7 linked regions of the Homo sapiens genome follow. The protein of the gene in region 1 interacts with the protein of each later gene in a biochemical or structural test. Each region holds a gene or a part of one and is shown on either strand. Other genes may lie near its edges. The genes, in order: SNTG2, CYTIP, CIT, RGS12, SLC9A3, SLC2A7 and GRM5.

Region 1 (3,500 bases):
CTGTCATGCAATATTTTTTAAAAACATACTTTACATATGCCTATTTGCAAAAGAGAAATGTCATGTACACTTTTATAGACTTTTTCTTAAGAAAATAGTGCATATTGGCCGGGCGCAGTGGCTCACGCCTATAATCACAGGACGTTGGAAGACTGAGGTAGGTGGATCACTTGAGGTCAGGAGTTCGAAATCAGCCTGGCCAACATGGTGAAGTCCCATCTCTACGAAAAATACAAAAATTAGCCGGGCATGGTGGCACACACCTGTAGCTCCAGCTACTCGGAAGGCTACGGCAGGAGAATCTCCTGAACCCAGGAGGCAGAGGTTGCAGTGAGCCGAGATCACACCACTGCACTCCAGCCTGGGCAACAGAGTGAGACCCTATCTGAAAAAAAAAAGAAAAAAAGAAAACAATGCATATTAATGTATATGACTCATAATACCTCCATGGTCTCAAGCAGCTAACTGAAGATAAAATACAGAACAAAGCAAACATATTTTTTTAAAAAAATAAGTCATCACTAAGCTATGTTCTAATAATCTTTCAAATGTGAGTGTCATCGCTGCTTTCTTAGGCAAGGTGGGGTGTGTAGGAGAAGGGGTAGGAAACAGAGATGGTATAACACAGTTCTGCATATTTTTGAGCCAAATCTATCAGACCAGAGTTTGCTATTTTAAAAGTCATTCTTTTAAAAAGCTGACATCCCTGTCTAGGGGTCATTCTCATTCTAATTAGTGTTTCTTGAATCAGAATGTGAGGTTTATCTACTTGTGGCTGATATTCTGCCTGATGGCGATGAACAAGGTACTCTTGACTTGGCAGGAGGACAGAGGTGAAGGTGGAGGTGACTGTGTGGAGCCGGAGAGGGGAAGAAGCCAGAGGAAGCAGGTCCCCTGCATGGGGAGGGCAGGCAGCTCTGCCTCCACCTTCGCACAGCCCTTTCTGATCACCTTTCCTGGTCCTCCTGGGGAGCACCTGTCCCTCAGGATCCATCGCTTCCCGTGGGGCCTTTGGTCCTGGATGTCTGCTATAATAAATTAATTTTTACACTTCAAAATGCTGGGAGACTATTTTAGGCAGATTGTGTAATATTCCACATGAATTAGGTGCTTATTAAATATTGACAGACTTATATCTACACTTTTGTCCAAGTATCCATTAATTCTTATTAAAGTAAGTGCTAACTAAAAATGGGTTCATTGCCATCATTTCTCATTTGTTCATGTTAACTGGTGCGACATATACAAAGCAAGGCTGACCTTAATCTAGTGGTTAATAAACAGCTGGGTCAAGTAGATTATTGCGGACGACAGCCAAGTTCCCTGGCTCCCCACATGAAGAGGTCAGAGACTATTATTTTTAGGCATATTTTACATTGAGCTACAGGACACACACACACGCACACAACTCACCAGTGAACACCTCGATAAACAGTCATGTATTCCATACTCTTGGCCAACCAACTCTCAGACCAAAAACAGACTTTAGAAGAATCCTCAAAAGTTCCCTGTGTCCCATCCTCCAATTTTCCCCATCTCAGAGCTCTACGCTTTTATTCTTTCAGAAGAGCCTGTTCTTCTCCAAAGGCCTGGGGAGGAACAGGGGGTGGTGCCAGTGTGGGCCAGGGGCAGCTTTTCCTGGATCCAGCTAGACTAGGGGGCCTGCAGGGATCCTGGGGCAGCGTGGGGGTAAGGGTGCCTCCTCTCATGAATCGGGGGTGCCTCGTGGGGCCTGCAGGGACCTCAGGGCAGCGTGGGGCAGGGGTCCCCCCTCTCATGAATCGGGGGTGCCTGGTGGGGCCTGCAGGGACCTCAGGGCAGCGTGGGGCAGGGGCCCCCCTCTCATGAATAGGGTGTGCCTGGTGGGGCCTGCAGGGACCTCAGGGCAGCATGGGGTAGGGGCGCCCCCTCTCATGAATCGGGGGTGCCTGGTGGGGCCTGCAGGGACCTCAGGGCAGCGTGGGGCAGGGGTCCCCCCTCTCATGAATCGGGGGTGCCTGGTGGGGCCTGCAGGGACCTCAGGGCAGCGTGGGGCAGGGGCCCCCCTCTCATGAATAGGGTGTGCCTGGTGGGGCCTGCAGGGACCTCAGGGCAGCATGGGGTAGGGGCGCCCCCTCTCATGAATCGGGGGTGCCTGGTGGGGCCTGTAGGGACCTCAGGGCAGAGTGGGGTAGGGGCGCCCCCTCTCATGAATCGGGGGTGCCTGGTGGGGCCTGCAGGGACCTCAGGGCAGCATGGGGGCAGGGGTCCCCCCTCTCATGAATTGGGGGTCCCTGGTTGCGCGTGAGGGCGTGTGAAGGACACGCATGGTCACCGCTTGGCTCCAGCTCACATGTACTAACGACAGTGTCTTCTCAGGGAGTTGGCATTTCCTGATTCTCAGGGTTGGTGACGTATGCACCAAATGCATGGATGACTGAACACTGGGTGCTCTCAGCAGGGTCAGTACTGTGGTCATCCTCGTAAAGTCAGTGGTGAGAAGGAATCTGAGTCCAGAGTCCTAACTCTGCCTTTGGAGGTTTACACCATCATTGATGTAGCAGGAATAAGATGTGAGTAGAGACAGTGGACCCAGGCTCCATGAAGGACCCTTTATCGATGCTGTGGTCTTGAGAAAGATCATCAGCTTTGCCCCCTGAGGCAGTGAATGCACGTGGAGCCCCAGAGGCTCACGGACTCGCACGAGGGGCAGACGGCTGTGTCCTGCAATAAAAAGGAAGGCGTCTGCAGTCCAGGCACGTTTATGCCATAGCTTCATGAGGCAGGCTGGACATCTCACCTCTGAGCTGGGCTTTCCTTGTCCGTACGATGGGCTTCAAATGCCAACCGTACCACAAAATAGGAATACTGAGAGGAACAAATGGGATAACTGAAACAAAGTTATTTGTAAGCCCGTAAGTACCATATAAACATTATTAGTCTGTAATTTATCAAAGAAAGCAATAAAAATTAAGTATCAAATGAACAGAAACTGTGAAAGTTGTTGACATGAATGCTGATGGCAGATACTAACATGTTAATGAAACAGGGAAAGAAAGTTCACAGCGTGGCTCACTGTTGGTTCACTGTTTGGTTTATTGTTATAGAAGCCGGGTAACTAGTGTAAGTCACGCAATCTGCTTTCAGGCACGTCTGGATGCAAGATCAGGAGCCGCTTCTTCCAGGGCATTTCTGGGCCTTTGTTTCCTCCGAGTTTCACGGTTTCCTCCGAGTTTCCTCCGTGGCTCACAGTTGGAACCCGGCCTCTCTACCCGCCTCATGGTGGCCGCTCAGGCCTTTTAGGATGGTGTTCACGTGGCCAAGGTCATTATCGGAGCTAAAATTCACAGAGCATCTGCTGCTCAGGAGCTAACATGCTCTTTGATGGACACACATGAGATTGTAGGAAGCTGCTGTAAGCAAAGCCACACCAAGTGAAGGCAGAGCGCTTGGCACCCCGGGGTCCACCGAGAAGAAACCAAACCAGCTCCCAGACACTCGCCATCCATGGGGAAGTCAAG
Region 2 (3,500 bases), about 160 Mb from region 1:
TTCTTCAAGTGGCATGCCTTCCTGTTGCCTTTCTGAGCCTCATAGACACACAGAAGGAGGAAGGAAGAAAGTGATTTACACTGGTTTGCAGAATTTGATATTCCTCCAAAGGTAATTGTGCGGCTCTTGATAATTCAGCAGTTTAGATTCACCACGACATTTCTTTTTCAAGGGCTATCTCAGTTCCTCAAATAGATCTTTATTTTACCACTCACACATTCAAGGATGAAAAATGTGCCTCACTGCATTAAATTAAATTACCTTTAAAACCTGCAGCTTTGCTTCAAGCTCCGTTCTTTTCAGAATCATTGTTCCATTAAGAGTCTCTATCCTGTTTTAAGGAAAAAAAAAAGAAGAGGAAGGTGGGGAGTGAGTAACATGAGTGATTCGTTTAAATAAGTACCATACTACAGAGTACTACACTTTGAGCACATACTATACTAAAAACGAAATACAAATGTTACAGTTCTCATGGCACTTCGAGTAGCTGGACCAAAGCCAAATCTTCTGATAACAGAGAAAGAAAATGGGGGAAAACTCCCCTTGAGAAGGTGGCTAAAAGAAAGGATCCTAGTTAATTTGTAAACTATAGCTTATTTTATAGAAGTCACTATGTGACAATGATGGCTGCTCTCTACTAGAATCTGTTCTTGTGGGGATGGGCTGAATGACCTCACTCATTTGGTAAATATTTATTGGGCATCTACTATGTACCAGATTCTAGAAACCATGCTGAACACAAGGGGCACAACAACAGAAATAATAGGCTCTAGGGGCTTTCACAACCATGGAATTAACATGCTACTTCTTGAAAGAGGGAGAAATCCTTTCCTCCATAGGATTCTAGGAGCCTTTACCTCTGTAAATCTCCTTATAATTTTGGTACTAGAAGAAACAGAAGTACAACTACTATGACATAATAACCTTCATATGATTCTTTATCTCAAAACATTCAGTTTACAAACTCTAATCCTAGAATTATCAACTTACCAGTGTTCTGTTCTTCCCACACCACACACATTTCTAAAAATAAAATACTTGTTCTATTCTGAGTGATTTGATTTGTTCTGTGTGTTCAAGTTAAAGGCTTTTATTTTGACTACTAAACCATCAATCTGAATATGATTTAAAAATTTCATTTGTGAATCACACACCAATTTTTAAAGTGTTGGTTCAAGTTCCTTCTTGTAATTAAGCTGTACCTCTCTATAAAGATGCAAGGAATTTTTCAAGGCATGGTAAAAGCATTAAATGTGGAGATCAGTCTTCTACTTCTAATAGCATCATGCCAGGAATAATCAGGTGGTAGCAAGCTATATACTGTCTGTTTTCTCCTTAAGGTGATCTTGACTCTCTGAGAAATAGTGGGAATCCATATGAATCTGTTTCATTGGGATTGAATGTCAGTTTGACCTGCTGAAGCAATAGATGTGTATGGGCAAAACTGCAACCATTGATTTGGCCATTTTCCTCAGTATTTGTACAGACTGTCTCCCATTTTCCCGGATTTCCAACAGTTACCTCCATCTACAACCCCTATTTACCTGTGGTCTACCCTCTTCACCCATGTGGAACATGCTTTCTGACTCTAACTACCAGCAGTTCCCCTCAGACTCTGCACGGTTCCTCTCCTTTGGATCCAGGGTTCTCTAGAGCAAAAGCACCTCATCCTTTACCCTGAACTCACAGGACCTATAGAGTTGGACCCAATTTGTTACCACCACCATCTTTCAAATCTGCTCTCACAAACACCCAAAGCATCCTTTGAAGTTTTACACCAGAATCACTGAAAAGCATCCAGCAGATTTTCTACTGGCAGCTTCCAAGGAGCAGCTGTAGCTGAAAAGGACAGATCCTGGCATCCAGAGCAGGTGGTCAAACCCCAGCCCTATCACTTACCAGTTATGTGACCTTAACTAAGCCCCCTCTAAGCTTCAGGCACTTCATCTATAAATAGGAATAAAATTAACCTCATGGGTGGCTGTGAAGAATAAATGACACAATATATGACCCACCTCAATCAGAATAAAACCCAAACTTGTTGGCATGTCCAAAGAGATCCATGGTCTGCCCCCAGGCCAACTCTCTGGCTTCATTTCTTATTATACCCTCTCTAATCCATCAAATACCAATTATACTGTCTTTTTCTCTTTCCCTTGTACATGCCAAGCCCATTGTGAGCACTCAGAGACCTCTCTCTTTGCCTGAAGTGCTCTTACGAGGAGTTCATTTGACCATCCTTCTCTTCATTTAGATCTCAACTCAAATATCGCCTCCCTAGAAAAGACCACTTTACACATCTAAGCCAAACTAGCAGCCTTCTTACCTAGCATGACAGGCCATTGCTGTTTTGCACTTTTCTCATAGTAGTTATCAATAACTGAAATATACACATTACTTAAATTTCAGGCTTTTCTGAGCCATTTCCTTCCATAACTATTAACGTACTAAGAGAGTCTTTATCTTCGTCTCTCCTGAGCCTATCACAGAGCTGGAAACATAGTATTTGCTCAATAAATATGATTTTAATGAATGAGCGAATTTCATCATTTAACTATCCTAATAAGATTTTATTAGGTGCTAGTATTGTTATGGTAGAAAAATCAGTCAAACCTCTAATTGGGAAAGCCAGTGTTCTATTAAGAAGTTTGGGGCCAGGGGCGGTGGCTCATGCCTGTAATCCCAGCACTTTGGGAGGCGGAGGCGGGTGGATCATGAGGTCAGGAGATTGAGACCATCCTGGCTAACACGATGAAACCCCGTCTCTACTAAAAATACAAAAAATTAGCCGGGCATGGTGGTGGGCGCCTGTAGTCCCAGCTACTAGGGAGGCTGAGGCAGGAGAATGGCGTGAACCTGGGAGGCAGAGCTTGCAGTGAGCCAAGATCGCGCCACTGCACTCCATCCAGGGCGACAGAGCGAGACTCCGTCTCAAAAAAAAAAAAAAAAAAAAGAAGTTTGGAACATTTGGAACATGTGGTGTGAGTATGTGTGTTTCAGGGTGGGGAGGGTTGAACAGACTATTCTTCCTTCCAAATGGAACACTAGAAGAGAAAAACAGGTGGCTTGTCACATAAGAGGAAAAACTCAGCCCTTCTGACCTTTGATTTGTTTTAGCTACAGGATTATATCAACCATGAAAATTGGATCAGTTCTTCCCAGTTTAAAGAGAATGTGTGCCAGTTTAATTGAATTTGACATTAAAAAAATACATTTGTAAAGGCCATCCTTCCCACACAGACGTTTGGGCTATTGATGTCCTCTGACTTCAGATGTTGACAGTATGTTCAAGTGTGAGGAATCTTGAGAAACAAAAGGAACTGATAATGTTTGTACCCCACTCTAAAGCTCCGGTGCACTGCCTCACTCCGTCTTGTAATGCTGAACAAAAGGCCTATTTATTCACTCATCAGGCTTTATGAGAAAACATAACATTTTGAAGCCCCACGGGAACTAGACAGATAGTTACGTTAGCAGGTTTCCGGACGATCTGATCAGGT
Region 3 (3,500 bases), on another chromosome or scaffold:
GGGATTGGAAACAACCTAAATGGCCATCAACAGGAGCCTGGCTTAACAGGTGAATTGCATGCTCACACCACGGAATACTGTGTGGTTCTCTGAAAGAATGGGGTAGGTCCTTATGTACTAATGTGAAACCTCTAAGATAGCACTTTAATGAAACGAAGGTGTCTTGCAGTGTATACTGTAGTGTGCTATGATATTTATAAGAGAAAAAAGGCCTGAAAGATAAGCTTACGTTTTCTTGTTTTTGTTTTTGAGACAGAGTTTCAGTCTTGTTGCCCAGACTGGAATGCAATGGCTTTATCTTGGCTCACTGCAACCTCTGCCTCCCAGGTTCAAACAGTTCTCCTGCCTCAGCCTCCCAGGTAACTGGGATTACAGGCATGCACCACCACACCCGGCTAATTTTGTATTTTTAGTAGAGACAGGGTTTCTCCATGTTGGTCAGGCTAGTCTCGAACTCCCAACCTCAGGTGATCCGCCCACCTCAGCCTCCCAAAGTGCTGGGATTACAGGCGTGAGCCACCACTATAATATTTATAAAAGAAAAAAGGCCTGAGAGAGAGATGTGCTTATTTTTTCATATTCTTTTTTCTTTTCTTTTCTTTTTTTTTTTTTTTTTTTGAGATGGAATCTCACTTTATCACCCAGGCTGGAGTGCAGTGGGGTGATCTCGGCTCACTGCAACCTCCACCTCCTGGGTTCAAATGATTCTACTGCCTTAGCCTCCCAAGTAGCTGGGACTTCAGGAGAATGCTACCACACCCAGCTAATTTTTGTATTTTTAGTAGAAACGAGGTTTCACCATGTTGGCCAGGCTGGTCTCAAACTCCTGACCTCAGGTGATCCGCCTGCCTCAGCATCCCAAAGTGCTGGGATTACTGGCGTGAGCCACCATGCCCAGCCTATTTTCTCATATTCTTTAAATATAATCACACAATGTAAGATACATGAATGGTATAGACATGTGGTCACATATATGAACCAACACTGAGGATGGGGAGCCAGGAGACTGACTTCTTTCTTTTTTTTTTTTTTTTTTTTGAGATGGAGTTTCCCTCTTGTTGCCCAGGCTGGAGTGCAATGGCGCAATCTCGGCTACCGCAACCTCCGCCTCCCGGATTCAAGCAATTCTCCTGCCTCAGCCTCCCGAGTAGCTAGGATTACAGGCATACACTACCATGCCCAGCTAATTTTGCATTTTTAGTAGAGACGGGGTTTCTCCATGTTGGTCAGGCTGGTCTTGAGCTCCCAACTTCAGGTGATCCGCCCACCTCGGCCTCCCAAAGTGCTGGGGTTACAGGTGTGAGCCACCGTGCCTGGCCAAGACTGACTTTTTAATCTTTAACCCCTAGTATTACTTGTAATTTTTACCATATGCCCACATGTCTTAGTCGACTAAAAGAAATTTCCATACAACTCCAACGTACCCTCTGGAGTTGAAGACTCCTTTCTGCGGCTGGATGGCGGGGCCAGCAGGCTCATGGCACTGGGCTGGTGCTCTGGCGACCGCACGATGGCGGACATGGCGATCTGCTGCCTCGCGGTGGCTGGCGTGGATGGGTGTGGGTGGTCCGTTGCTTTGCGGTGGGCAGCTGCAGAGAGACCAGGACAATGCCTTTTGGTTAGCTGGGTCGCCTAGAGGACCAAACTAAGCCGAATGTCCCTGGGCTATCTTTCAAGGACCCAAGACCAAAAGAATATGCGTCACATCAACTTGGCAATGCACAGGGGCCATACGTTTTTCAGACATGGGATGTCTGGTCTGAAAGCGTATGGGCCATAAACGAAGACACTGAGCTAGTTAGTCTTGGCTGATCTCACTGAGATCAATCCTCTGCCTTTTCCACATCCTTGAGCATTTTGGAGAGAGTGAGCCCCTACCTTCCTCCCGGGCGGACCGGAGCTCGATGCGGGTCTTCTGAAGGGCTTCCTCTAGCTCTGCACAGCGAGCTTTCTCCTTCTCCAGGGCCAGCTTCAGCTCATTGTACTGCAGAGGAACCTGTGTGGGTAAAGCAGGGTCCTCTTTCCGTCGACTAAATAAACCCTAGCAATGGAAACAGAGATATCTCCTAACTCCTGGAAACTGGCACTTGAAACTAGCTAAAGGAAATCTGACTCGGGAGGAGCAAACCACAAAAGCCAGGAGCATACTCACTGTAAGTGTATTTAGTAAAAATGGCATGTGAAGGGGGGGAAGGGTAGGCTGAGCCACAGCCCGTTCCAGCCGGCTGAAAAAAATAGGGGTGCGGAAGTTTTCACCAAGAGGATTAAAGATGCTTGAATGGCCACCACCTCTTCCTCTAGCATTGCCAAGACAGGAGAGTCATGTCCTGAGTCTTTCCCATTCAAAAAATGGAATCAGGAGAGTATGGAGTATGGAGTCAGGAGAGATGGTTCAGAGGTCACTCTTGCCTTGGAATATGTCTCATGATGCTCAGTTACAAGACACAGAGATGAGTGTTTTGTAAAAGGAAGCAAAATTTTAAAAGGAATGCTAAAATGAGGTCAAAACAAGGGGCTTACTCAAAAAAAAATGCAAATGAAAATATTTACTATACATGGAAAAAAAAGGAAAACAGAATAATGCAACTTAAAAAAAAGGTAACTAAAAAAAATAACAAATGGAAACACCCTAACTAAATCAAGTGACATAACCAGGTAACAGTTCACTGCTAAAATAAAAAAGATTAAATATCATAAGCATAACAACCATATACAGTCACGCAGCATGCAAGAAAATCCTTCCCGTGCAGCCAACGTCTAGTGGGAGGCGGCCTCTGAATGTTGTGCTCATGCCCTTACAGCGAAGATGGCACCGGAAATATTGAGACAACTGTCAACTTCAGCCCTCCACTCCTTCCTCCTAGGTATTCCAAGTCATCAAGGCCTCTCCTGCAAAACCACTGCCACTGCTGCTATGGTATGCTTCTGCATTTGGAAGGAAACTGCAAGCTTCTTCAAGACTTTTCTGGAACTGAGAACACCTGGCCAAACCTAGTATGAAGGCTTTAGTGGTTTGGGAAAGCATGTATAGATCAGGCTTATGAAAAACAATCTTCTCATGTGCACTATGTATAACCCTGCCCCTAGTTTGTAATTTGTCTCCTGCAATCTAAAAGGGTTGTTCAGTACTTGGCAGAGGGGAGAAGTGTCCAGTCAGACACTTCAGGCAGGTCACCCCAGCTCCCTGAGTTCTAGTCTCTTTGTGAGCCGATCAAAAGGACTGGACTAGATCACTGTTAAAGTCCTTTCTGGAGTGTGGTACGAGAGACCTGAACTGCTGAAGCCCCATACTTGTGACTTGCTAACTCCCTCTAGAGTCATGTATGCATGACTTGGTATAAATCTTTCTCTCTGCATACATCCCTCTGCCCCAACTGCTATGTGTGTGGGCTGGGGAGGGATTACTTCTTTAACAAAGATACTATGATTTGAATGGTCATAAACAAAAAGTAGTTTGTTAGACTTGATCACTGATATCTTTCAGTAAGACCTATTATAAT
Region 4 (3,500 bases), on another chromosome or scaffold:
AGCAACCCCAGGAAACAAATACAAGGGGGAATCACTTTGTCACGGGTGAGGGGAGAGGGAAAGCAGGACATGCGTGAAACGGTCTCACTAAAGCACGCTCAGAAAAGCATCTGTCACACAACAAAGGTGCTGCTGTTCCCGGCAAGTGCCAGCTATCACTGTGAACAGCCCCAGGACAGCAGGTCATGAAGCCTTGATGGCTTCCTCGGGGAACAGAACACCTCTCGGCTTTCTCTTCCAAACAGGAATAGATGCTGCCTCAATGAAAGACATGACTTCCCAGTTTATTCGCACCATCCGCCTCACACTGTGTGACATAATGATGGACAATGTCTTCTATGCAGTCCACCCAATTTTTCTACTAGACTCTTACTGTCATGGGCCTCTGCTTATTAAAAAGAAATGGTTTGTAACTCATGTAAGTAATATCTTATTATCTATAATCACGTTTCTTTGTTTTTATTTTTTAGAGACAGGGTCTCACTCCATTGCCCAGACTGGAGTGCAGTGGCACAGTCATTGCTCGGTGCAGCCTCAAACTCACTCCTGGGCTCAAGCCATACCAAGCACACCCCCATACTCGGCTAACTATTTTTTTTTTTTTGGAGAAAACTGTATTGAGATATTTTAAGTCACGTATCTAATATAAAACCAGTTTGCATTGTTTCAGCTTGTCTTCCTTGGAACCTGTGGTTGCCCTTCACCTCCTTCTGGCAATTTAAATTGCTCTGATTTCGGCAGAATATTCCCCGGACATCAGGACCATCTCCACATTCATCCCAGTCTTTGAGACAGCTCCCGGAGATCAGCTTCCTGGTCAAGCACAAGAATCTCAGCAGCACCGTGATCTTCCTCTCTCTCCTGGCCAGGTAAGACCCCGACTTTCAGGTGGTGGTTCCTCTTGCTGAGGCTGCTCATCACTGGGCTCAAGCACAGGCCCAGTTAGCTCAGGAGGCTGCACATACCGTCTTGGTCTAAGCCTACATGCTGATCTTCCTTGCCAACTCATATTTCAAACGGCTGCTTCTCAGTAGTGGGTAAAGAGTCCAGAACGCAGGAACGCAACCCTCACACCCTCACAGGTCCACAGTGTTCACCACGTGGGCAAAGGGGCCAAGGAGAAGACACCCAGTGAACCTTGGCTAATGTTTTAATTTTTCTGTAGACGAGGTCTCACTATGTTGCCCAGACTAGTCTCAAACTTCTGACCTCAAGCAATCCTCCCACCTTGGCCTCCCAAAATAATCACATAAGTTCAGCTTATAGTTTAATTTTTTTTAAAACTGTATCAATTAATAGTAAAGCTAGCAGAACAGACAGTGAAATTTAGAAGACCATGGGGTACTGGATTCCAGCTGAACTTCCATTACACCATCGGGGCTACCAGTAAGAACGCCTGCTCCCAAGCCCCTGCACCTCCCAGGGACTCTGACTTAGTAAGTCTGGGGCAAGGCCAGGAAGCTCCAACTTCCCCCTACACACCTTCCAGCTAACTCTGAATCACCTTGACTGGAGATCATTTAACCCAGCCTCTTCACTGTGTGGAAAAGGGAACAAGGTCCAGCCAGAAGTAATTCATCCAAGCCCTGAGGCACAGATGGGATGTGACACGAAGGTCCCCACTCGCCGCACAGCACTGCCACCTCCCATCAGGAGTCACCGACCACGTCACACAGGCTGAGTGTCCCTTAGAAGAGATTTTTGGGACCAGAAGGGCTGTGGATTTTTTCTGATTCGGAACATCTGTATATACGTAATGAGATATGTTTGGATAGGACCCAGGTCTGAACAGGAAATTCATTTATGTTTCATATACACCTTATACACACAGCCTGAGGGTAATTTTGTGCGGTACTTTTGATAATTTTGTGCATGAAACAAGGTTTGTGTACACTGACCCATGAGAAAGCAAAGGTGTCACTAGCTCAGCTATGCCTGAGGTGCCACATCGGTGTCAGAGGGTTTCCGATTCTGGAGCATCTGGATAAGGGATGCTCAACCCGCACTGTCACTCCTTCACTCATTCATCATTAAAAACTCATGGTGTAAAGAGGACAATAAAACAAAACAAAGAAAAAAAACTCAGGGTGATCTAGAAATAAATATTGCTGCCATGACACTTTTCTATTCCCTTCTAAAGTTAAAACCTCCTATAAAAGGTCCTGTTCTGATAAACTCCTCCACTCATGCCGGGCAGCACCCAAGACCTGCAGGTACAGAGATGGGTCCTAGGCCTGAGCTACGATGCAGCAGGCCCCGAGCGAGGCAGGGCTGGAAAGACCAAGCCAGCACCCGTCCGCACTGCCCGTGCACACAGTGTGAGGCGAGAGAGACGCCGTCCTCCGAAGGCAGAGAGAGTCTGGGGGCACCGAGAAGAAGAGAGCAAGGCACAAGAACAGCACAACATCAGCAATCACGGCCTCCAGGGTGACCCCACGGGCTGCAATGGCAGCCGCCACGGCCAGGACTTGCTGTGCAGCGCATGTCATCCTAAACACCATCATCGCTCTGAGGAAGGCTCTGTTACAATTCTCGCGTGCAGATGAGGGAGTGGGGGCACAGAGAAGCTAAGTAACTTGTCTACCAGCACACAGCCAATTAACGGCAAAGGTGGATTTGAACCCAGGCTATTCTTGGCTTACCCACACTTACGTGGATGCACAGAGGAAGGGCCTGAGACAGCAAGACACCACGCCACCTTCTCCACCTGGGACCTGCCCCCGCAGGCGCCTGCCCACCTCACACCCTCCCATAGTCATCATGTCCCAGCAGCCTCCCCCCACCACCACCTCACAGTGCCCACAGCTGCCGAACACCCACCTGGCACCCCCCTCCCACCTCATCAGGGACACACACACCAGACGATCTGATACCCGCCCCATGCAGACCCGCACTGGCCATCCCTGCATCCAGCCACCTCCCATCATTCACCTGAGAGGCCCTCCAAGTCCCTGGCCACTCTTCCCAGACCTTCCCTGGACCCAGAGCAGCATGGACCTGCCCGCCCTGGACACAGCAGGACACGGTGCCAAAGGGAGTGAGCTGGCAGATTCTGGAATCACCAAGGCCACTTCCAGGCCATTTTACTGAGCCACCAGTCAATACCTCTCCACACTTCCCTTCTTGGGGTGCAGCGTGGACTGGAGACAGCCCTTGCCTTGGCCTTCCAGGCCCCAGCTCCTCTCCCGCCCGGTTCCCCTCAGAGGACACCTGCCATTTCCCGGGTCCCAGCTCCTCCCCGACACGGTTCCCCTCAGAGGACACCTGCCATTTCCCGGGTCCCAGCTCCTCCCCCACACGGTTCCCCTCAGCGGACACCTGCCATTCCCGGGTCCCAGCTCCTCCTCAACACAGTTCCCCTCAGCAGACACCTGCCATTCCCAGGCCCCAGCTCCTCTCCTGCTCAGCTCTCCTCAGAGGACACCTGCCATTTCCCGGGTCCCAGCTCCTCCCCCACACGGTTCCCCTCAGAGGACACCTGCCATTTCCCGGGTCCCAGC
Region 5 (3,500 bases), on another chromosome or scaffold:
GTTCCTGAATCTTCTCCTGGCCTTACTGAGCGCTGATGTGGCCTTTGGGCCTCTGTGGAGGCACCGTCCCCGCCTCCCGGAACACCATCTCCTCCAGGGACACCCACACACCGTCCGGGCTCTGCCGTTAGCACCAGTTCAGTTTCCCTCCCTTCACCTCTGTCATGGGCCAAATTGTGCCCCCGAAATTCCCATGTTAAAGTCCCCAGGACCTGGGCATGTGAGCGTGAAAAAGGGGAGTATGGCACAGTCAGGTCACCGGGGTGGACCCTGATCCAATAGGACCCGTGTCCCTGTGAGAGGAGGCGACTCGGGCACATTCACGCAGGGACGGCCACGTGAGGACACGGGAAGGCACCGTCTGCAAGTCCAGGACCGGGGTCCCGCAGGAGCCCACCACACTGACACCGTGATCCAGACCGCACTGACACCCACCGCACTGACACCGTGATCCAGACCGCACTGACACCCACCACACTGACACCCACCGCACTGACACCCACCACACTGACACCGTGATCCAGACCGCACTGACACCCACCGCACTGACACCGTGATCCAGACCGCACTGACACCCACCACACTGACACCCACCGCACTGACACCCACCACACTGACACCCACCGCACTGACACCCACCACACTGACACCGTGATCCAGACCGCACTGACACCCACCACACTGACACCCACCGCACTGACACCCACCACACTGACACCGTGATCCAGACCGCACTGACACCCACCACACTGACACCCACCGCACTGACACCCACCACACTGACACCGTGATCCAGACCGCACTGACACCCACCACACTGACACCCACCGCACTGACACCCACCACACTGACACCGTGATCCAGACCGCACTGACACCCACCACACTGACACCCACCGCACTGACACCCACCACACTGACACCGTGATCCAGACCGCACTGACACCCACCACACTGACACCCACCGCACTGACACCCACCACACTGACACCGTGATCCAGACCGCACTGACACCCACCACACTGACACCCACCGCACTGACACCCACCACACTGACACCGTGATCCAGACCGCACTGACACCCACCGCACTGACACCCACCACACTGACACCCACCACACTGACACCCACCGTCGTTCAAGGCACTGCACCTGCGGTACTTTGTCATGGCGGCCCTGGCAGATTACGTGGTTCCTATGGGATTTTGTTGTTTGCTATTCACGTATTTATTTTATTTGAGATGGAGTCTCACTCTGTCACCCAGGCTGGAGTGCGATGGCACGATCTCGGCTCATTGCAACCTCTGCCTCCTGGTTTCAGGTGATTCTCCTGTCTCAGCCTCCCCAGTAGCTGGGATTACAGGCGCGTGCCACCACCCCTGGCTAATTTTTGTATTTTTAGTAGAGACGGGGTTTCACCATGTTGGCCAGGCTGGTCTCGAACTGCTGACCTCAGGTGATCCACCTGCCTCGGCCTCCCAAAGTGCTGGGATTACAGGCGTGAGCCACCGCACCCGGCCACTCATGTATTTTTTAGGAACTCAGGAATGGGTGGCAGTAACTGTGGGTCCAAAGTCACAGACGCTCTGGGGACCAGGAGGGCGGGATTTCAACAGCGCCATCATTAACCCTGAAGCTATGGAGTGGGCGGGCAGGGCCTGGGAACTGTGGAAGATACAAAGAAGCCTCGCGAAAGCTGCCAGTCGTTCTGAGCTGGGAGGAAGGAGGTGGAGGGACGGGACGCCCCCGGGAGGGGAGTTTGAGGACAGGGTTTCACGCCCTCCTTTGCTGACTGACCGATGGGGGGTGAGACGGGGCCCAGGCCTCCCACGGCTCGCCCGCTCTGGAGCGGTGGCTCCGTTGCTCACCACGGTGACTGCGTCGTTCAGCAGCGACTCCCCGAAGACGATGATGAACAGGACCTCGTTGACATGGACCTCCTCAAACACGGCCAGGACGGCCACCGGGTCCACAGCCGCCATGAGGCTGCCAAACAGGAGGAAGTCCAGCAGCCCAATCTGCAGGTCGCCTGGAAGACAAGCCGGGCCGCGGGGCAGCTGCAGGGCCTGCCACCCGAGGAGGAGGGCCCTGGGGAGGCGCTCGCCTACGGGTCGGGGTTCGGAGCCCGTCTGGCTGGCGCCGGTGGCGTGGGGAGCTGGGTCAGCTTCCTGCGTCCCTCCCACAGACCCCCAGCCCCCTCCAGGGAAGGCTGCTGTCTTCCGAGGGGGCCACCCCATCTGAGCAAGACAGACAGACAGACTGACCCTGGCCCTGGCCCTCTCCTTCATCTTTGGGTGAACGGAGGCAGGTGGGTGCAGGGGCACCGCATGCTGGGGAGGGATGGGGGCCCATCGCCTGGAGTGGCGTCCCAGCCCAGGAGAAGCAAGTGGGGCTGACCCAGGACGGGCCCGGAGCCGGGACACACAGCACCCAGGGGCGCGGCCAGGGAGGGGCAGGTGGGAGGGCCGTTGGGGGTGTGGGGGCAGATTGTGGGGATGAGCAGGGCTGCGGTGGGAGCAAGGGGGCCCGGAAGACGTGGGTCCATGTGGTCCCTAGCTCCCGGCCGGCTTCCCTCCCCGCATCTGCCTGTGGGCTCTGGTGCCCCTCGCTGGGGAGGTTTTACTGAAATGCAGCCTTATCCTTCACAAGTCTTTGCCATTCAACCCAGGGTTCAGGCCTCGAGGAGGCCACGTGGGGGTGCCAGGCTCCAGGGGACCCTCAGGGAACTGAGTGTGGCCACGTGGCCCCGAGAGTCTGCCCTCTCTCACGGCCGCAGGGCTCAGAGGACACTGGGCCTCCTTGCTGCCTTCCCGGCCGTGAGGGTCCAGGGACCAGGAGACGCCAGGGCCGTGAGGGTGTGGGAGAGACCACCCAGGGAGGGGGAGGCCCCCGACGAGTCCCCCCGCACAGCTGCTGCCTCTCTGCTGGGCTGGAGCGGAGCCCACCACCCCTCTGGGCTGAGGCTCGGGCTGAGGAGGGGTTTGTCCCTGGAGCCGGACGGGCCCCAGGAGACAGCAGAGAGCAGCCTGGCCAGGGGTTTCTGTGCTGGCGCCTGGGAGGGGACAGATCAGGGTCATCTCTGCGGTGACTAAACCCCGAGTTTGCTGTGAGCTCCTAAGCCCCAGCAGCCTCTGGCCAGTGTCACAACACCCCGAGGAAGTGACAGATGCCAGAAGAACCAGCGTTCAGGGAGTTAAAGTTCCATGTTGGAACGGGAACCACACAAGCCTTCTCCTCTTCCAAACTCAGGCCTCAGGACACGAATCCCCTTCAAGGTCATCTTTAAACGCGGCCTCCTGGCACGGCCGCCCCCAGGGCAGTGATGGCCCCCATGGATGTCCTGGGGTCGGCCGCGTTCAGACTCCCCGGCCGGCAGCCTTCCCGTCTGGACAGTTGCCCACGGCCGTGCCAGGAGGGCTCATGCCACCAGACCGCATGTTCCAGGCCTTTCTCCACCACGTGCTTTGCCTGTGCAAGGGCCTCTGATGCCTGAAGCTCTCGC
Region 6 (4,263 bases), on another chromosome or scaffold:
TTTTGGCTGGGAATGGCTCACACCTGTAATCCTGGCACTTTGGGAGGCCGAGGCGGGAGGATTGCTTGAGGCCAAGGGTTCAAGAGCAACCTGGCCAACATAGGGAGACCCTGTCTCTATTAAAAAAGAAGAGAAAAGAAAAGAAAAAAAAAATTTTACTTTTGAGAGACTTACGACTTACTCTGCCAGAGGCACCATAGGAAATATTCTTCTTCTTTTTTTTTTTTTTTTTTTTTTTTTTTTTTTTTTTGAGATGAAGTCTCACTCTGTCACCCAGGCTGGAGTGCAGTGGCATGATCTTGGCTCACTGCAACCTCTGATTCCCGGGTTCAAGTGATTCTCCTGTCTCAGCCTCCCGAGTAGCTGGAATTACAGATACCCGCCACCATGCCTGGCTAATTTTTGGATTTTTAGTAGAGATGAGGTTTCACCATGTTGGCCAGGCTGGTCTTGAACTCCTGATTTCAGGTGATCAGGTGATCCACCCACCTCAGCCTCCCAAAGTGCTGGGATTGCAGGCGTGAGCCACCGCTCCCAGCCCAGGAAATATTTTTACTAATTGTGTGACTTCAGGCAAGTTACAGAACCTCCAGAAACCTTAATTTCCTCATCAGTTATGGAAACAAGATGTACCTTATAAAGAATGTGTTAGCATTAAATGTGATTAAGTGATGGTACATTGCTTGACTCGGAGGTTCCATCCATGGTAATAATTGTAAGTACACTAATATATGTATATATACGTAATACACAAACAAATGTAATACAGTGTCTGTAGACATGCTAATATATGTATACAAGCGTAAGCATAGACGTATACCAAGGTCAAGCCTGTAGTCAGTTCTCAGTCCTCATCTGAGCTCATCAGCACAGGCTGTCCCTCCCTCCTTGACTCTCATCCTTTACTAGGTTTTGGGGACATTCTGCCCTCAGGGTCTTCCACACCTGCAAGGGCCCCTTCTCTTTTTCCTTTTTTCCCCTTTGCCCCAATCCCTAAATGCCACAGAGTTCAATCTTTGACCCCATTCTCTTTCCAATCAACAAGGGGCCTACCCAAGGTGAGAGCAGTGGGACCTGAGGCCCAAAAAGACTGGGCTGGAAAATGGAACAGGTCCCCCAGCATCCCAATGTGCCCGGAAAGGACGACACTCCAGGGGGAAACACCTCCTGCCACGCCCTGGTCTCCAGGGGTGAGCATCCAGGGTACTAGGGCAAGCTGGCTGCTCCCAAAGGCAAGATGGTGCCTCCTACAGGCAAGATGGCAGCCTCCACGGAGGAAGATGGCGGCTACCTTCCACCCACGACCCCGGTCAGCTGCTGCCCGGCCCACCTTGTGCCCACCTTGTGCCCACCTTGTGCGGCGTGTTGACCACAGAGAGGTTGTAGCCGTACTGGAAGGCTGAGCCAAAGGCCGCGCTCAGTGTCGCCAGCAACAGCGTCGGCTGGAGCCGCTGTAGGAGACAAGTCCAAGGTCGGGACGCTGTGGGCTTGGGCCTCGGGAAGTGGAGTGGCTGGGCCTCCACCTCCCTCCAGCCTGGGCTGGAAGTGGGGGATGGGGGATCCCAGGCCGTGCCCCCGGAAAAGAGGAGGAGGTGGCGCAGGGCTGGGGCTTTTGGGGGCTGAGGTCTCTGCACGCATTCATTCCCTCCTTGAGGATGTATCTGAGCATCTGCTACGTGCCTGGCCCTGTACTAGGCCCTGGAGGCCAAGTGTGAAGTAGGGGATGCTTTAGGAAAAAGGCCCAGCAAAGCACTGCCTTTAAGAAGCTCACTTTCTAGTGAGGGGAGCCCACCCCGTCCAAGAAAGACAAAGATGATAATTCCAAATAGCTAGAATGCTGTGAGGACAATAAAATAGGGTGATGGGTGGGGTAGCAGCCTGTGAGGAATGAGAGACTGTGTTCAGTAGGGTGGGCAGGGCAGGGAAGGCCTCTCTGAGCAGGCGCCCTTTGAGCCGGGACCAGAATGGATGAGAGGGAGCAGCTGTGTAAGCATCGGGGGGAAGAGCATCCCAGACAGAGGGACTCATTGCTTGCCTCTGCCTCTAGAACAGGCCCTTAGGAAAATCCCGGCAGTCGCCTGTGCTCAGGGCCAGGCTTTCCATGGTTGCCACAACACCCAGGGCAGCTTGGAGGGGAACTGGCCTGAGGGCCAAAGTCTGAGGAGCAGGTGGGCAGGGTCTCTGACCATGTCCTAGAGCCAAGGCCCTGGTGCATGCCCCCTCCCCACTGCCCCCTCCACCCCTCACTCCTGTTCCACATGTCCTCACCCCAACCCTCACACTTAGCTGCCTGGCTGCCCACAGCCCGTAGCTCTGCACATCCAGGAACAACCAGACAGAAGGGCAGGATTCGGGCATTCTTCAGAGGCCATCTCCCCTCGATCTTTAAGGGTAGGGGAAGCGGAGGGGAGCAGGGGTGGAAGGGAGAGAGGCATCTCCAGCACCATCCGCTCTCCCAGCATTCGCTCAGCCACCCTGGCCCATGTCTGAGCCATGAGGTTTGAGCATAGCTGCTTCTCCACATGGCTCTCCCAGGCCTGGTTATCCTGAAGAAAAAGGAAGCACGCTACCCGCTCCTTGCTAAAAGCATTCCACGGCCTTCACCTCCCTCCACAGGTCTGCACAGCTGGTGGGAGAGGGACAGTGACAGGTTCCTAGTCTTGGCACTTACCCCCTCCCTGGATGGAATGGGTGGAGGGGTTCCCGCCTCTTTGTTCTCCATCCTTGTTCAGGTGGGAGAACAGGTGTGCTCTACCTCCCAAGTGACACCTGCTCTGCGCCAGCCACCTAAAGACCGGCTGTTTCTCCCCTGGGCCTACCTGGCTTTATGATCCTTTTGCTCTCTGGACCCTGCTGACTTTCCCCAGGAGCAAATTCTCCTTGGAAATGTTGATAAGACACACGTTGCCAGTGCACAAATCATACACAGCACGAATTTCGTCTTTGCACCCACCAAGCCCCAAGCCGAAAGCTCCCTAGTTGCACCAAGGAGAGAGAAAAAACATTGCCTGACATTGGTCCGCAGAAATGAGGACTTTCAGAGACCCAGTGAGGCTGTGACCTGGATCTAGGATGCTTTTTCTGTGTCATTTTTCCATGTATGCCTCTTTTTTTTTTGAGACAGGGTCTTCCTTTGTTGCCCAGGCTGGAGTGCAGTGGCGCAATCTCAGCTCACTGCAACCTCGGCTTCCTGGGCTCAAGCTATTCTCCTGCCTTAGCTTCCCAAGTAGCCGGGATTATAGGCACGTGCCGCCACACCCAGCTTTTTTTTTTTTTTTTTTTTTTTTTTGAGGTGGAGTCTCGCTTTGTCGCCCAGGCTGGAGTGCGGTGGCGCAATCTCAGCTCACTGCAAGCTCTGCCTCCCGGGTTCACGCCATTCTCCTGTCTCAGCCTCCTGAGTAGCTGGGACCACAGGTGCCTGCCACCATGCCTGGCTAATTTTTTTTTTGTATTTTTAGTAGAGACGGGGTTTCACCGTGTTAGCCAGGATGGCCTGGATCTCCTGACTTCATGATCTGCCCGCCTCGGCCTCCCAAAGTGCTGGGATTACAGGCGTGAGCCACCGTACCCAGCCTTTTTTTGTGTGTTTTTAGTAGAGATGAGGTTTCACCATGTTGGCCAGGCTGGTCTAGAACTCCTGACCTCTAGTGATCCGCCTGCCTTGGCCTCCCAAAGTGCTGGGCTTACAGGCATGAGCCACCGCACCTGGCTTTTTTTTTTTTTTTAACTTTTATTTTAGGTTCAGGGTATATGTGAAGGTTTGTTACATAGGTAAACTCGTGCCACGGGGGTTTGTTGTACAGATTATTTCATCACCCAGGTATTAAGCCCACTTCCCAGTGTTTGTTTGCTGCTCCTCTCCCTCCTCCCACCCTCCAGCCGGAAGTAGATCCCAGTGTTTGCTGTTCCTTTCTGTGTGTTCCTAGGTTCTTCATATATGCCTCCTCTTGTGCATTTGGACTAATTGTCCATTTGGGGGAAAGAACAAATTAAACACTTTCAGAAAAACACAGTTATTATTTCTAATTACACTAAATAGTGTTAAATAAGTCAATAAAATATTGGACAAAGGTGCTTATTTCAGAATCATTTCTACTAGCATTTTTTTTTTAAAGTAGAGAATGATTGAATAAATTAGGAGTAACTAATTGATTGGAATGCCAGACTTCTGTTTCAAAGGATAATTATGAAATGTGGGAACATGGAAACATTAACATGTTTTTTAATTAACATGACCTTTAAGAGAAGTGATCAAAGCAGAAT
Region 7 (3,500 bases), on another chromosome or scaffold:
GAATAAAACAAGGGGCATTTCTGTATATATAACATTTTATTTTTTCTAAAAGGGGTTTTTATGCAAACAATTTGATTGGATCTTCATAGAATTGTTCTCAGAGAAGAGCAAAACTACTAAGAGTTGCTGCTTCTGAGAAGAAATCTAAGTTAAGAAATGAGGTGGAATATTTTATGCATAATTTTTATATACATACACTTTAAGCTCTATATTAAATACATAATTTACCTACTGAAATATAACAATTACATGAAAACATTCTATTTGTGGGAAAACAAAAGACAATAGAAATTGCAATGCCAAATTCAGGCAAAATATTTAGGTTGTACCACCAGGATTCAGGAGAGAACAAACCTTGGAATTGGACATTCAAAGGTTGGAAGAAATACTCGTTTGCTTACTGTTTATGTGGTTGTGTCAAGAAATATTTATCTTGCTTTGATCCCAAGCAAGTATGTGAATAACGAGGTTATGTAGTGTTAAGTCTTATGATTTATCAGTACAAGAATGGCATGGTAGGAATTTTCACAAGGTGAAACTCACCTCCAGGATCAGAAAAGTGAGAGTCAAACAGGATACAGCTTTGTTGGGTACTGTGGGAACTCTCTAAGGTCATGCTTTTTTTTTTTTTTCCTCCCCACTTGGTTTTTCAGAAAGTCTTGGTGGGATCTTCCATGAAATGATAGTGTCAGTTATCATCCAGTCTCTTCCTCTCACTGGGTTGAGGTGATTTTCTCTAGCATTAGGAGAATTAATCCCAGTACTTGATAATTTATCTTCATATTCTTATAATTATTCTCCTTTGTTCCATCAATATTCTCTTTCTTGAAGAGTATGGAAATTTCCAAATGCTTTCACATGAACCATTAAGGTCTGTGAAAAGATGTGGTCCTATTTTCAAAAAACATTTTTTCTCCTAATTGCCTATGTGTTTTATACTTAAACCTAACCGTACTGTGTCACGGGTACCACAAGATGTTCCTTCAAGAAAGTGTATGTCATCACAGAATTCCAGAGGAGTGTACAAGGAAAACTGGGTTTCAGCTTCGATGTTAATCTCTTACACTTGCTATTTCCTGTGATTTATGGCTTTAGTAGGCTGTGTGACTGGGTATTTACTGTGGCTTGTTCTATTACACAGAAATTATGCCTGGAACTTCTAGGCAAAGAGATTTATAGTATAAAACAGAAGAAGAAGAAAAAAGAAAGCATTTTTTAAAGAGCAGATCAAACTAGCTCTTCAACTGGGCAGAGGAAAGGAATATGCAATGACTCAGAAGAAAAGTAAAATCACTTCTTTTAATGGAGTAAGAACTCTCTCTGCACTAAGGAAATGTAAAGGGTCCTTTGCCTTAGTACTTTTGCAAACCTTGATACATGTGCCCACGATGACACAGGATTGATGGTGCTTGCCCATTTAGCAGTGTGGCAGATTGCATTGATGACGTCTACTAATGGTGCTTCTGTATTCACATCATTTGCTTTTGACTTGATAATTCCCTTTTACTTTCATGTAGCACTGGCCTTCTGACACTTTGACCAATAGCACTTGGTTGACGTGAGAACTTTCTTCCTAGTTTGTGTTGGAACCCTATTGTCACCCTGTGAAGTATGAGAGCACCCAGGTTTTCCAAATGAGTGCATCTTAGACCAGTTGACCTCAAACATGTGAGAGCGTGCAATGCAGATCAACAAAATTGCCTTTCCAACCCACAGCTAATTGCAATCACATAATTGAGCCCAGCTGAAACCCTCAACATTACCCAGCTGACTATTATTGTTAGCAATAAAAAATGCCTTCAGGATGGAGTCCAGTATAAACATACTCATCCCTCTCACTTTAGTCTCTAACTTCCCTTCTCCCAAATCAGATACTATTGCTTAAACTTCAAAAGCAAAAAAAAAAAAATAACATGCATTAATATTCTTGAAATTCGAATATGAAATAAAACAGAATATATGCTGTGGGCAAGAAAGAATATTTAAAATGCTTTGCCTATACTTCTGTGGCTAGAGATGTGATAGTTCCCTTAAAGTCTGAATGTTTCAAATAGTTAAGCGCTTGAATATATTTCATTATTATATTCTTTACCTTGATCTAGTTCAACTTCATTAAGAAAAGTAATTATTGTATTGTGTTTTATACAAAAAAAAATTTTATATTGTACTTCCTGGGTGATTGACAAGATTTCACACTTCACTAGTTTTCCTGACTTTAGTTGAAAATCTACAGCATATCCACAGGGCCTATTAGAGTGCCCATCATATAATATGTGCTCAAAGACTATTTGCTGAATAGAGGAATTTGTGTTAGTGAAGTACGTAGCTCACCATTTATGACTATATAGTATGTGGATAAATAGCAGGCACTTGTAAGTTTTTAGTTTTGCTTCTTTATAAAAATGAGGTGTCAAAATGACTCCCTTGATTAATTGTAAAATCCTGTTCACGCTACACTTCATTTTCTGTTTTCACTGGTTCTTGAATTTATTATTTCTGTCTAATGACAGGAATGTTAATTTGTTACAGCAAAAAACAAATCAGTGATGTTCTGGGGAGAAAAATGTACCAATAAATTGTACTGGTAGCATACATTATTGAAGATATGGTCTTCAGGTTAACCTAGAGATTGCAATTTCAGGTTATAATATGACTTCCCATCAGTTATTTACTTAAAAATGTGATAACAATCCAGCTTTGATTGAAGGAACTTCAGTATGATTCATAGTCTATATGCTTGTTTGACTTCTAAAAACTGGGAGTACACTTTTCCCATCTCAGCATTTCTACTAATTATCATTACACAAGACAATTTACCTTGGAAAAATAATAAATGGTACTGTGGAAGCTACTGAATAATTTTTAAAAGGACTTTATTTTGTTTCTCCAGGAATTGAACAGTGCTGAGAGTTAAAACAAATTTTGGGATGATCATGGTAATAATAAAGACACATAAATTACTATTCATTCCATAGAATGTTAACACTGTGTCTCAGGCCAGCATTTAATCTTCTGTATTTTACGGTTAAGGAAACTAAAATAGAAAGGTCACATAACTCTACCTTGCTTGTCAGATAATTAGTTGCAGAGTTGTGTCTTGGAACTCAAGATTTCTGTCCAGAACTTGGTTTCCAAAACATTGCTGGAGATTATTAGTCAGGTTCCTTTTTGCCATTTTTCTACCTCTCCATTGCATTGTTTTATTCACTCTCCCTTTATCTCAGTGGCACCAATATTTCTAAACAATTGGCTGAAAGTGTTAATAACTATCTGAAATAGTAGAAGGGACCACAAATGAAATAATTCATCTAAAAATTAGCCTTCACAGGAGAATTGCTTGAACCTGGGAGGTGGAGGTTGCAGTGAGCCAAGATCATGCCATTGCACTCCAGCCTGGGTGACAAAAGCAAAACTGTCTCAAAAAATAAAAATAAAAATTAGCCTTGAGAAATAGCATGATCAATTTGCTCTTGATCTGTAAATTAGATGAAGTGCTCCTT

What was found.
Region 2: the proteins of SNTG2 (region 1) and CYTIP interact in a test that uses a peptide from one of them, tested with the Homo sapiens proteins (one large-scale study listed by IntAct).
Region 3: the proteins of SNTG2 (region 1) and CIT interact in a test that uses a peptide from one of them, tested with the Homo sapiens proteins (one large-scale study listed by IntAct).
Region 4: the proteins of SNTG2 (region 1) and RGS12 interact in a test that uses a peptide from one of them, tested with the Homo sapiens proteins (one large-scale study listed by IntAct).
Region 5: the proteins of SNTG2 (region 1) and SLC9A3 interact in a test that uses a peptide from one of them, tested with the Homo sapiens proteins (one large-scale study listed by IntAct).
Region 6: the proteins of SNTG2 (region 1) and SLC2A7 interact in a test that uses a peptide from one of them, tested with the Homo sapiens proteins (one large-scale study listed by IntAct).
Region 7: the proteins of SNTG2 (region 1) and GRM5 interact in a test that uses a peptide from one of them, tested with the Homo sapiens proteins (one large-scale study listed by IntAct).

Annotation. Positions count from the first base shown.
Region 1 is NC_000002.12:1,233,849-1,237,348, reverse strand, and holds part of SNTG2 (gamma-2-syntrophin), read right to left. Parts: intron 1-3,500. UniProt on the Homo sapiens protein: Adapter protein that binds to and probably organizes the subcellular localization of a variety of proteins. May link various receptors to the actin cytoskeleton and the dystrophin glycoprotein complex.
Region 2 is NC_000002.12:157,427,090-157,430,589, forward strand, and holds part of CYTIP (cytohesin-interacting protein), read right to left. Parts: coding exon 3,470-3,500; intron 332-3,469; coding exon 262-331; intron 1-261. UniProt on the Homo sapiens protein: By its binding to cytohesin-1 (CYTH1), it modifies activation of ARFs by CYTH1 and its precise function may be to sequester CYTH1 in the cytoplasm.
Region 3 is NC_000012.12:119,716,821-119,720,320, forward strand, and holds part of CIT (citron Rho-interacting kinase), read right to left. Parts: intron 2,042-3,500; coding exon 1,879-2,041; intron 1,590-1,878; coding exon 1,425-1,589; intron 1-1,424. UniProt on the Homo sapiens protein: Plays a role in cytokinesis. Required for KIF14 localization to the central spindle and midbody. Putative RHO/RAC effector that binds to the GTP-bound forms of RHO and RAC1. It probably binds p21 with a tighter specificity in vivo.
Region 4 is NC_000004.12:3,310,021-3,313,520, reverse strand, and holds part of RGS12 (regulator of G-protein signaling 12), read right to left. Parts: intron 1-3,500. UniProt on the Homo sapiens protein: Regulates G protein-coupled receptor signaling cascades. Inhibits signal transduction by increasing the GTPase activity of G protein alpha subunits, thereby driving them into their inactive GDP-bound form.
Region 5 is NC_000005.10:486,450-489,949, forward strand, and holds part of SLC9A3 (sodium/hydrogen exchanger 3 isoform 1 precursor), read right to left. Parts: intron 2,028-3,500; coding exon 1,867-2,027; intron 1-1,866. UniProt on the Homo sapiens protein: Plasma membrane Na(+)/H(+) antiporter. Exchanges intracellular H(+) ions for extracellular Na(+) in 1:1 stoichiometry, playing a key role in salt and fluid absorption and pH homeostasis.
Region 6 is NC_000001.11:9,023,624-9,027,886, forward strand, and holds the start of SLC2A7 (solute carrier family 2, facilitated glucose transporter member 7), read right to left. Parts: upstream 2,801-4,263; 5' UTR 2,723-2,800; coding exon 2,672-2,722; intron 1,452-2,671; coding exon 1,353-1,451; intron 1-1,352. UniProt on the Homo sapiens protein: Probable sugar transporter. Even if its physiological substrate is subject to discussion, it is able to transport glucose and fructose. Does not transport galactose, 2-deoxy-d-glucose and xylose.
Region 7 is NC_000011.10:89,041,983-89,045,482, reverse strand, and holds part of GRM5 (metabotropic glutamate receptor 5 isoform a precursor), read left to right. Parts: intron 1-3,500. UniProt on the Homo sapiens protein: G-protein coupled receptor for glutamate. Ligand binding causes a conformation change that triggers signaling via guanine nucleotide-binding proteins (G proteins) and modulates the activity of down-stream effectors.